Regions from separate parts of the Homo sapiens genome. Here all the other regions are reported to be linked to region 2. The links are microRNA targets in miRTarBase. Many come from high-throughput screens and were not tested one by one. Region 2 holds a microRNA gene; each other region holds the end of a gene's coding sequence.

Region 1 (3,260 bases), not on the chromosome of region 2:
TCCTCTTCCTTCTCCCTCCTGACTCCTATTCCTCACTGCACTTGCTTCTGCTCCCCACACTGTGGATTTCTCACCAGCCTTGAAACTGCAGGTGTCACTGTTTTCAGAACTTTTTCCTTAGTGTTTCCTCTTTTGAGAATCACTTTTCCTTTCCTTTCCCTGGTCTGGTTCTGGAAATCCATCAAAACCACTTCCAACACCAGCCAGAGATCCTCCCCTCCCCAACTCTGGGGCATCACCTCCTCTTCCCCCACAGCAGGAGGGTGGGGTGTGTTGTCACCTTGCTTCCCTCAGCAGCTGTGTGAGCTCCCTGAGGACAAGACACACCCCGTCTCCCTTCCTAAGCCAGGACCTGTCATACTGGCTGCCCCACACCAGGGGGGAGGGGACAAAACTTTTGCCTTCCAGGATGACCTAGGGTGGCAGGAACTGAGGAGGTGTCTCCTCAGATTTGGGGCCTGGACAAGGGTTGTCACTTTTGTGTTTCCATTTCAGCACCACTCGCCATGTCCTCAGGCACAACCCAACTCAGGGCCACAGCCACCACCCTCATCCTTTGCTGCCTCCTCATCATCCTCCCCTGCTTCATCCTCCCTGGCATCTGAGGAGAGTCCTTTAGAGTGACAGGTACTGTGGGCAGAATTGGAAGTGGAGCAAGGAGCAGGTGGGTGAGGAGGCAGGATGGGGAAAGAGAATTCCCGGAGTCCCGCCCCTCCCCGTGGCTGGGACCTTCTCATCCTAACATGAGACAGGTGAATGAGACCTTGTGTTGCCTGTTGGCAATGTTGGCAATGACCTGGGCAGCTCAGCCCTGAGTTCTGATGGTTTCTCACCTTCAGAGTCCAGAGGGAAAGGGAGGGGCCCATACCAAGGCTCAGGGTCTGTTGAGCTTGAGAAGGTTTAGCAAGTTCAGGCCTGATTCAGAGCAGGTTCCTATTCAGGAAGGGTGTGTGGCCTGCAGGCAGCAGGAATTCAGACATGGGCAGTCCTCTTAATTGGGTTAGGTGCATCATGGTAGCTTTACATGAGGTGTGACAGGGGAAGGGGGATTCCATCTCTGAGGCTAAGAGAGATCTGGGTGTAATCCCAGGAGGAGGGGGCTGGGAGAGCCTTGGTACACCTAATTGAAAAGGAGGGAGTGCAGGGCTGCCTTCCCACAGAAAGTAGGTGGAAGGTGAAGAGTAGAGGCTGCTCAAGAGAAGGATTTTTAAAAAGTCAGTCCCATGTACCCGTGGGGTTTGAGTCTGGGCCCTGAGGCAGCTCCCCTGCCATCACACTCCTGCACACCCCAGATCCTGAGCCCAGTCATAGCCCTGCCAGGAGCAGAGTGGACTCAGAGGAAGGAGCATCTGAGCTGCTGCTGGGGTTCCACGGGCACCACTGGGCTGGATAAGGAATGGAAAAGGTGGAACAGGGACAGTCACCTTCAGAACTATGGGTGCTGCTCCCAGTGTGAGGTGATGCTCAAGAAGAAGGGGAAAGAAGGATGTTTGCCTGCAGGCCCACCAAAGGCCAAGGGCACAGGAATACAGAGCCCTCTCTTTGGAAGTCTGTCCCACCCCTTGCCATGTTTTAGACCCTGTCATCAGATGATAAAGAGGGCCTTGAGTGAGGGAGCGGACCCATCACTACCAGCTTCAGACCTGTGGGCCCCTCCACTCCATCCCCTGGTCAGGTGCAGGGCCTGGGCTGACTCTGTGATGTGACAAAGGAGGAAAGAGGTAGGTCCAAGCTGCAGTCGCCAGGGTTGGGGCTCAAGGGAAAAATAGGTCCCTTAGTGCAGGGGGCTCTGAGACATAGAGTGACTAGGGAAAGATTACCGTGGAAAAGTGATCCGGGTTCTCTGCCTCTTAAACCAACATTTGGGTCCTTTCTGAAGGTTAAAGATGATACCAAAAAGCCCCTGTGAGCACGGTCTTGATCAACCTCGCCCTTCTGTCTGGCCAGCTGCCCACCACCTACGGTGTATGTCCAGCAGCCTCCAGCAGATGATGATGACACCATGGACCCAATAGCTCATTCACTGCCTTGATTCCTTTTGCCAACAATTTAACCAGTGATTATTCCTAACATATTATGCAATTTTCTCTTGGTGCTACCTGATGGAATTCCTGCACTTAAAGTTCTGGCTGACTAAACAAGATATGTCAACATTTTCTTTCTTCTCTTTTTGTTTGGAAAATCAAGTACTTCTTTGAATGATGATTTCTTTCTTTCATTACTGACATGATTGTCAGTAAAACAATCATGTTAGACTTCAGACCTCCAGGGATTCTTTCCATGTCCTGAAAGAGAATTGTTTAATTATTTAATAAGAAAAAAATTTATATTAATGATTGTTTCCTTTAGTAATTTATTGCTGTGTACTGATATTTAAATAAAGAGTTATATTTCCCAAAAACCTACTGAGTTTAGAATTTTGTTGTATTACTCAGTAGAGAATTAATGTTATTTCATTTTTCCTCCATGATATGGAGTAATAAATGAGTGATTCTGCCAGACTTTGTGTGGAAAAAGAGAATCTACAAAACATGGCTGAAAAAAATCAGAGACAAAACAAATACATGGAAAAATATTTCATGCTCATGGGTTGGAGAATCAATATAGCTAAAATGGCCATACTTCCAAAAGCAATTTATAGATGCAACACTATCTCTATCAATACCAATGTCATTTTCCACAAAATTAGACAAATCTAATCTAAAAGTTCTTTGGAGTTAAAAAAGAGCCCAAATAGCCAAAACAATCATAAGCAAAAAGAACAAAGCCAGAGACACCACATAGCCTGACTTCAAACTATAATATAAGGCTACAGTGATCAAAACAGAATGGTACTGGTACCAAAATAGACACTTAGATCAGTGGAACAGAATAGACAGCTCAGAAAGAAACCTTCACACCTTTTAACTTTCAACAAAATCAACAAAAAAAGCAATGAGGAAAGAGTCCTAATTCAATAAATGGTGCTGGGATAACTGGCTAGCCATGTGTAGGAGAACGAAACTGAACCTCTACCTTTCACCATATATGTAAAATAACTCGACATGAATTAAAGATTTAAATGTAAGTCCTAAAACTATAAAAATCCTGGAAGATAACCTAGGAAATGCCACTTTGGACATACAGCCTGACAAAGATATCATGATGAAGACACCAAAAGCATTTGCAACCAAAAACAAAAATTGACAAATGTGACCTCATTAAACTAAAGCGCTTCTCCACAGTAAAAGAAATTAGCAACACAGTAAACAGCCTATAGA
Region 2 (3,260 bases):
TCAACAGATCGACTAAGAATTAAAGGTAGAAGCCACACATTATCAATTATCAGTGATCAAAGAGGTGATATCTCTATAGACTCTACAGAAATTACATGGGTATTATACATAACAGTATGCTCATACATTTGCATGGAACTTTGGGGTCCTTGTATATGAAACCATACGTTTTTTGAACTATTCACTAAGCCCCTAATTCCAATGGAGAGTCTGTGCTGCTGAGGAAAATAAAGAGATATAAATGCTCTAAATCCCAAACCCTAAATCAGCCTGTTTTTCAGCCTAAGATTGGCCCACTTACCATCCACTGTGAAGAATGCCAAAGCCAGGATGGTTGACTAGAAACTCATCCCAGATTCGAATGCATAGCAAATCAACATTTTTTAGAACCCCAAAGTCTTTGGAGATGGCCTGTTTAACTTGACCCTAATTTAAAGTCAGTGGAAAACTCGATAGCATCCCAGGATACAACTCAAGTTTGTGCTGTTGACATAATTGATTCTCTGCCAGTAGCATCTCCTACAGATTAGTCATTTTCATATAAAGATCCATAGTGAAATTTCAGCAGTCTAAAGTGAAAATGGAAAATTATGTATAACAGCCAATTATTTATAAAGCTAAATATATTCCATTTAAATGGCTTATTTCTATTCTGAGATTATATCCTTCCTGTACCAATCCAGAAGTAGAAGGGCCGCTAGGATTGGCTGGATTTTGCATTACTTTTAATCCTGCCCTATGTTTTTAAGAGCTGGGCCCTGCTCTCGATATTTCCTATCACCTTGCTTTTGACAGAATTCCCTGGATATGATTGGATACTGCAGCTGACAGAAATTATATCTCTGAAATATTTGTAGGGACATGCCGCTAACTTTCTCCCTTTGCAATCACACCTACTTCCTTGTAACTTGATTCTTGCCTCAAAGTGTAATAGACTGTTTCTGCTCAATTTAGAATTGTTAGTTCTTCTCTGGAATACTCCTCCCAAATATCCTTCTTCTGACTTTGAGACATATTTTTTAATTTACTATCTTACCTTGACCCTCAGACTTGAAATTCTAGGCTGCTTTTCAGGATATAATCTTTGTTTTTTTCTATAATTAAGAATTAGATTCTCTCTACCTCTAGGTATTTGGCTCTGGCTAGCCTAAATAAATATGCCCAACTATTGAATCTCCCTAATTCGGTGTAGCTCTGAGAGTAGGTGGCACAATTCTGGAGGCATTATCTGTGTGGCCAGTGTTGTTGCTAATATGGTTTAATGCAGATCTACTGGCCCTGAGCTTAAAGATCCACTCACATACCCACTGCCTCTTATGAGCCAAGGTCATAGCAGTCAGTACTCTACCCTCCTCTAAATACATTTGTCAGAATGCCTTTCTAGTGATGCAGCTCTAGCATCTGTGTTTCCATGACACGCAGATTTTATTGTTCTTCAGTGAAGCAGAGTGGTGTTTCTGGTGTCTGTCATGACGAAGTGGGCTGGGAGATGGGACATCCTACATATGCAACCAGCCAGCCCCCTCTTATATGAAATAGGGATTTCCTGGCAGCACTATGCAGGATGTTCAACCTCCCGGCCCATGCGAAGATGAACTGCTGCACCATGAAGTTCCAGTTTCTGCTGAAAGGCTTGACATTGATTGATGCTTCTCTGTGTAAATGCTGTCATGAAAGCCTCTTCTGGCCTGGTGGTCTTTTCCTGATGAACTGGTTGTGATTACAAGTAGCCTAAATGATCCAAAAGCTTGTCAACCAATAACTCATCTCTTACTTGAACTTAAACCCCTTATCTCAAAAATATCATTTCCCACCAATTAAATAAAAGGAGAAAAATCTCCTGACACTTATAGGTACCAAGATATTTTCTGGGTTACAAACACTGCCCAGCTCCACTTCCAATTTAGTCAACCTGTATTACCTGCTTCTAAATCATATAAACAGACTTCTTACATGACAGTAGAGGAATTCTATGGCTGGAAGACCCCAGATGGGCTGCACACACTTTTTACCAAAGCTATCCCAGATGTATCACAATTTAGTTGCCAAAAACACAGGCCTAGAAGCATCATGAGATCCTAGGCTCTGCGGCTCTGCAATGTGACCACCACATTACAAAATAAAGAAACTTAGCTAAGGACAAATTCAATCAGCCCTGTTCATTTAGCTTAGCAAATTCTGCATTATGTACTTGCTCATCTCAAGTCTCTCAGCACCAAGAACTTTCCTATCTGCAAAATTTTGTGAGCCTACAATTTCATCAGGACCTGACACCTGAGAGGTTCAATACAATCTACAATATCTTCAAACAAACAAACAAACAAACCCTAGATTTTCTCTTCTGAGATAGTCTCACAACCCATCTTTCCTGGAATTTTTTATGTAATTTCCAATTGAGCTACCTCCTTTCAAGCTGATCTCAAAACTTTACCTATGAGTGCATGGAAAAGACTTCCATTTCTCTGTTGATATTTTCTTCAGAGTTGAATGGAAGACAACTTTATTAAATGATTCTCTATTTCTTCTATTGTATGGATCTTGAGTGGTGGAAAAGGGATAAGGACAAAGAAGCAATCATGAATTCTTGCCTAAGCAAGAATATAATAATGAGGACTTCTGCTGATTTGTACTATGTGACTCTATCCTCTCAGTAGTGGGGAAAAAGAAATGAGTAGGTAAGAGAATAAGATATAATTGTGGCTTTAACTTTATGACTCTAGATTTTCTGGTTTGGATTTTGGCTTTACTTTATCACATTAAGCATACCTTTAATCTGGTATTTTATTTACAAGAGAACAAAAGTAAAATCTCTTTGACTATGTCATTAATGTAGAGTGATTTCTAAGTCAATAGAAAAAAATATAATTTTTTAAAAGTATATTTAATCTTGCCAGGCATGTTGGCTCACGCCTATAATCCCAGCACTTTAGGAGGCCAAAGTGGGTGGATCACCTGAGGTCAGGAGTTCGAGACCAGCCTGGCCAACATGGCGAAACCCCATCTCTACTAAAAATACAAAAATTATCTAGGGGTGATGTTGCGTGCCTGTAAGCCCAGCTACTTGGGAGGCTGAGGTAGGAGTAAGCCAAAATCGTGCCACTGCACTCCAGCCTCAGAGACAGAGTGAGACTCCATCTCAAAAAAAAAAAAAAAAAAGGATATTTAGTCTTTATAATTTGTTTAGTCTTGATGACACTAGCAGGATTAACATTTGCTAACTCTCCTAGGTGCTTCAGTGATAAACAACATGGCCATGCTAT
Region 3 (3,233 bases), not on the chromosome of region 2:
TAAAGGTTTCTGGCCAAATGAAAATGACCCTACTATGATTTTATTTCTGTTGTTAATACTAAAAGAATCCCACTTGGATAATTTATCTTTTGTAGGGTAGTGAAACACTTGAAGTTTACTTAGAGTTTATTCAAAGCATAAAACTGAAATTCAAGATCAGAAAATCAAATTCTAAGGTAGATAGACTTTAGGCAACGCAGGCAACGAGGCAATTTCAGTTTATCAATTTGCTTTTACTTTTTTTTCGCTTAAAGCAATCAAATTTACAATTAGAAACTGATTTTCTTTCTCCTAATTCCGAATTTTTTTACAGCAAAAAGCCAAAGAAACCCCAAAGAAGGCAAAACAACCGACTGAAACCTTTAACCTTAGCCTATGATGGAGATGCCGACATGTAACATATAACTTTTCCTGGCAACAACCAGTTTCGGCTTTCTGACTTCATAGATGTCCAGAGGCCACAACAAATGTATCCAAACTGTGTGGATTAAAATATATTTTAATTTTTAAAAATGGCATCATAAAGACAAGAGTGAAAATCATACTGCCACTGGAGATATTTAAGACAGTACCACTTATATACAGACCATCAACCGTGAGAATTATAGGAGATTTAGCTGAATACATGCTGCATTCTGAAAGTTTTATGTCATCTTTTCTGAAATCTACCGACTGAAAAACCACTTTCATCTCTAAAAAATAATGGTGGAATTGGCCAGTTAGGATGCCTGATACAAGACCGTCTGCAGTGTTAATCCATAAAACTTCCTAGCATGAAGAGTTTCTACCAAGATCTCCACAATACTATGGTCAAATTAACATGTGTACTCAGTTGAATGACACACATTATGTCAGATTATGTACTTGCTAATAAGCAATTTTAACAATGCATAACAAATAAACTCTAAGCTAAGCAGAAAATCCACTGAATAAATTCAGCATCTTGGTGGTCGATGGTAGATTTTATTGACCTGCATTTCAGAGACAAAGCCTCTTTTTTAAGACTTCTTGTCTCTCTCCAAAGTAAGAATGCTGGACAAGTACTAGTGTCTTAGAAGAACGAGTCCTCAAGTTCAGTATTTTATAGTGGTAATTGTCTGGAAAACTAATTTACTTGTGTTAATACAATACGTTTCTACTTTCCCTGATTTTCAAACTGGTTGCCTGCATCTTTTTTGCTATATGGAAGGCACATTTTTGCACTATATTAGTGCAGCACGATAGGCGCTTAACCAGTATTGCCATAGAAACTGCCTCTTTTCATGTGGGATGAAGACATCTGTGCCAAGAGTGGCATGAAGACATTTGCAAGTTCTTGTATCCTGAAGAGAGTAAAGTTCAGTTTGGATGGCAGCAAGATGAAATCAGCTATTACACCTGCTGTACACACACTTCCTCATCACTGCAGCCATTGTGAAATTGACAACATGGCGGTAATTTAAGTGTTGAAGTCCCTAACCCCTTAACCCTCTAAAAGGTGGATTCCTCTAGTTGGTTTGTAATTGTTCTTTGAAGGCTGTTTATGACTAGATTTTTATATTTGTTATCTTTGTTAAGAAAAAAAAAGAAAAAGGAACTGGATGTCTTTTTAATTTTGAGCAGATGGAGAAAATAAATAATGTATCAATGACCTTTGTAACTAAAGGAAATCAAAATTATATGTTGATTTTTCTTTCTCTCTGATTTCCCAGTTTCAGATTGAATGTCTGTCTTGCAGGCAGTTATTTCAAAATCCATAGTCTTTTGCCTTTCTCACTGGCAAAATTTGAAGCAATCTCTCTCTTCAATGTATGATTTCAAAACTAAAATTTTAAAAGAGAAGAATAAATATCTTATCCAAGACTTCATTGCATATCTAGAGCAAGAGTGGCAAACTTTTTCTGTAAAGGACTATATAGAAAATATTTTCCACAAGGTCTATGTTGCAACTTCTCAACTTTGCCATTCTGCTAATGCAATCTTAGTAAATAAAAGAATGAACATAACTGTTTTCCTATATAACTTCCCTTACAAAAACAGCCAGTAGGCCACCTTTGCAGGTCATATTTTGCTGACCCCTGGTCTGGATGTTTTTTAATGCTAGCTCTCCATGGTGTCATCTTTCGTTTTCATTCATTTTTCAAAGGTGAGAATTTACAGTCATTACATTTCCCACTGTATCAGAAGTAGCTGTATTTTCTACAGATGTAGCCCTGGGAATGGCACAGTGGAACAATATTTAACTAACTCAGCAGACTTCTTGCAAATGAAAAGAAAACTCAAAAGGTGCCATTAAAAAGCAATACCATTTTCAGGCAACATTATTGCAACAACCTTTGTGAGAGAGGACACTAGCTTTTCAGGATATTTGAAAAATAATATAACTAACATGCTATTTTATCTTAAACAGCTGTGTTCCTGTAAAAGTGTTTTGGATTAGAAGGTATTTTTACCTTCATACTGGAGTATGAACTCCCCCTGCTGTTCATTAGAGTATTTGCAAAGATTACAAAAGACATCAGGTTAGGATGTCATTGTCCCCAAAATGAAAATATTTGTATGTATTTCAATAAGAACTAAATGCAGTAAGCGCTAATTCCTCATTCAATATTCACTATATTAGGAAATGTAAATCATTTCAAAGAGAACAGGTAGTCAGGAAGATGAAAATTTTACTTTAAAGCAAGGATTTAAACAAAGAAAACCATAAAAACAAAGTCCATTTTATCTGTTTTATTAAAGAGGAAGAAAAAATAATATTGTTACTTTAAAACTGTGATTGTCAATATATATAATCAGGGGTCTTCCAGATAATCCTAAAGTTGATCTCTTTGAATAAAATAAACTCCATTTGTCCAAAATAGTTAAGAAAGACTCTATTGTGGTTACTTGAAAAATTCAGCTAACCCTCTTATGAAATGTGTGCAACACCTATTAATTTTGAAATGTGGGATAGAATACCTACTAAAGCTATATTTAAGGTATTGTAAAATGTCATTAATTCAGAAAAGATTAGTATCATCCTACCTATAAGAATTAAATTAGCAAATCAAAATTATAGAATGTTATGAAAAATACATTTTATTCATAAATTAATTAGATTTTACAGCATATATGCATGCATATATATATATACACACACACACACACACACCCATATATATGAGAGAGAGGAAATTAGGTTCAACATGACCTAATATTAGAGAACATATTGGAAGGTCACTGTTTGTTAGGATAAATAAATACTGGATAAC

The links. The annotated mature microRNA hsa-miR-448 reads UUGCAUAUGUAGGAUGUCCCAU and lies in region 2 at 1,490-1,511, opposite strand. An mRNA with a match to its seed (bases 2 to 7 or 8) in the 3' UTR can be bound and repressed. Matches are read on the target gene's strand: a 7mer-m8 pairs with bases 2 to 8, a 7mer-A1 pairs with bases 2 to 7 and ends in A, and an 8mer does both.
Region 1: the mRNA of RAET1L is a reported target of hsa-miR-448. Seed matches in the 3' UTR shown: 7mer-A1 at 2,076-2,082.
Region 3: miRTarBase lists THSD7A as a target of hsa-miR-448. Seed matches in the 3' UTR shown: 7mer-m8 at 3,092-3,098.

What each region holds. Positions count from the first base shown.
Region 1 is chr6:150,017,475-150,020,734 of GRCh38, reverse strand. RAET1L (retinoic acid early transcript 1L) reads left to right here. Exons shown (of 5, transcript NM_130900.3): 4 at 496-627; 5 at 1,880-2,401. The coding sequence ends at 605. Among named protein-coding and RNA genes, the nearest start is that of RAET1L, 6.4 kb to the left of the region's middle.
Region 2 is chrX:114,821,775-114,825,034 of GRCh38, reverse strand. It overlaps MIR448 (microRNA 448), which reads right to left and starts at 1,581; the gene lies at 1,471-1,581. All of the region lies in intron 4 of HTR2C (5-hydroxytryptamine receptor 2C), which reads right to left.
Region 3 is chr7:11,372,959-11,376,191 of GRCh38, reverse strand. It overlaps THSD7A (thrombospondin type 1 domain containing 7A), which reads left to right. Exons shown (of 28, transcript NM_015204.3): 28 at 314-3,233. The coding sequence ends at 398. Among named protein-coding and RNA genes, the nearest start is that of PHF14, 400 kb to the right of the region's middle.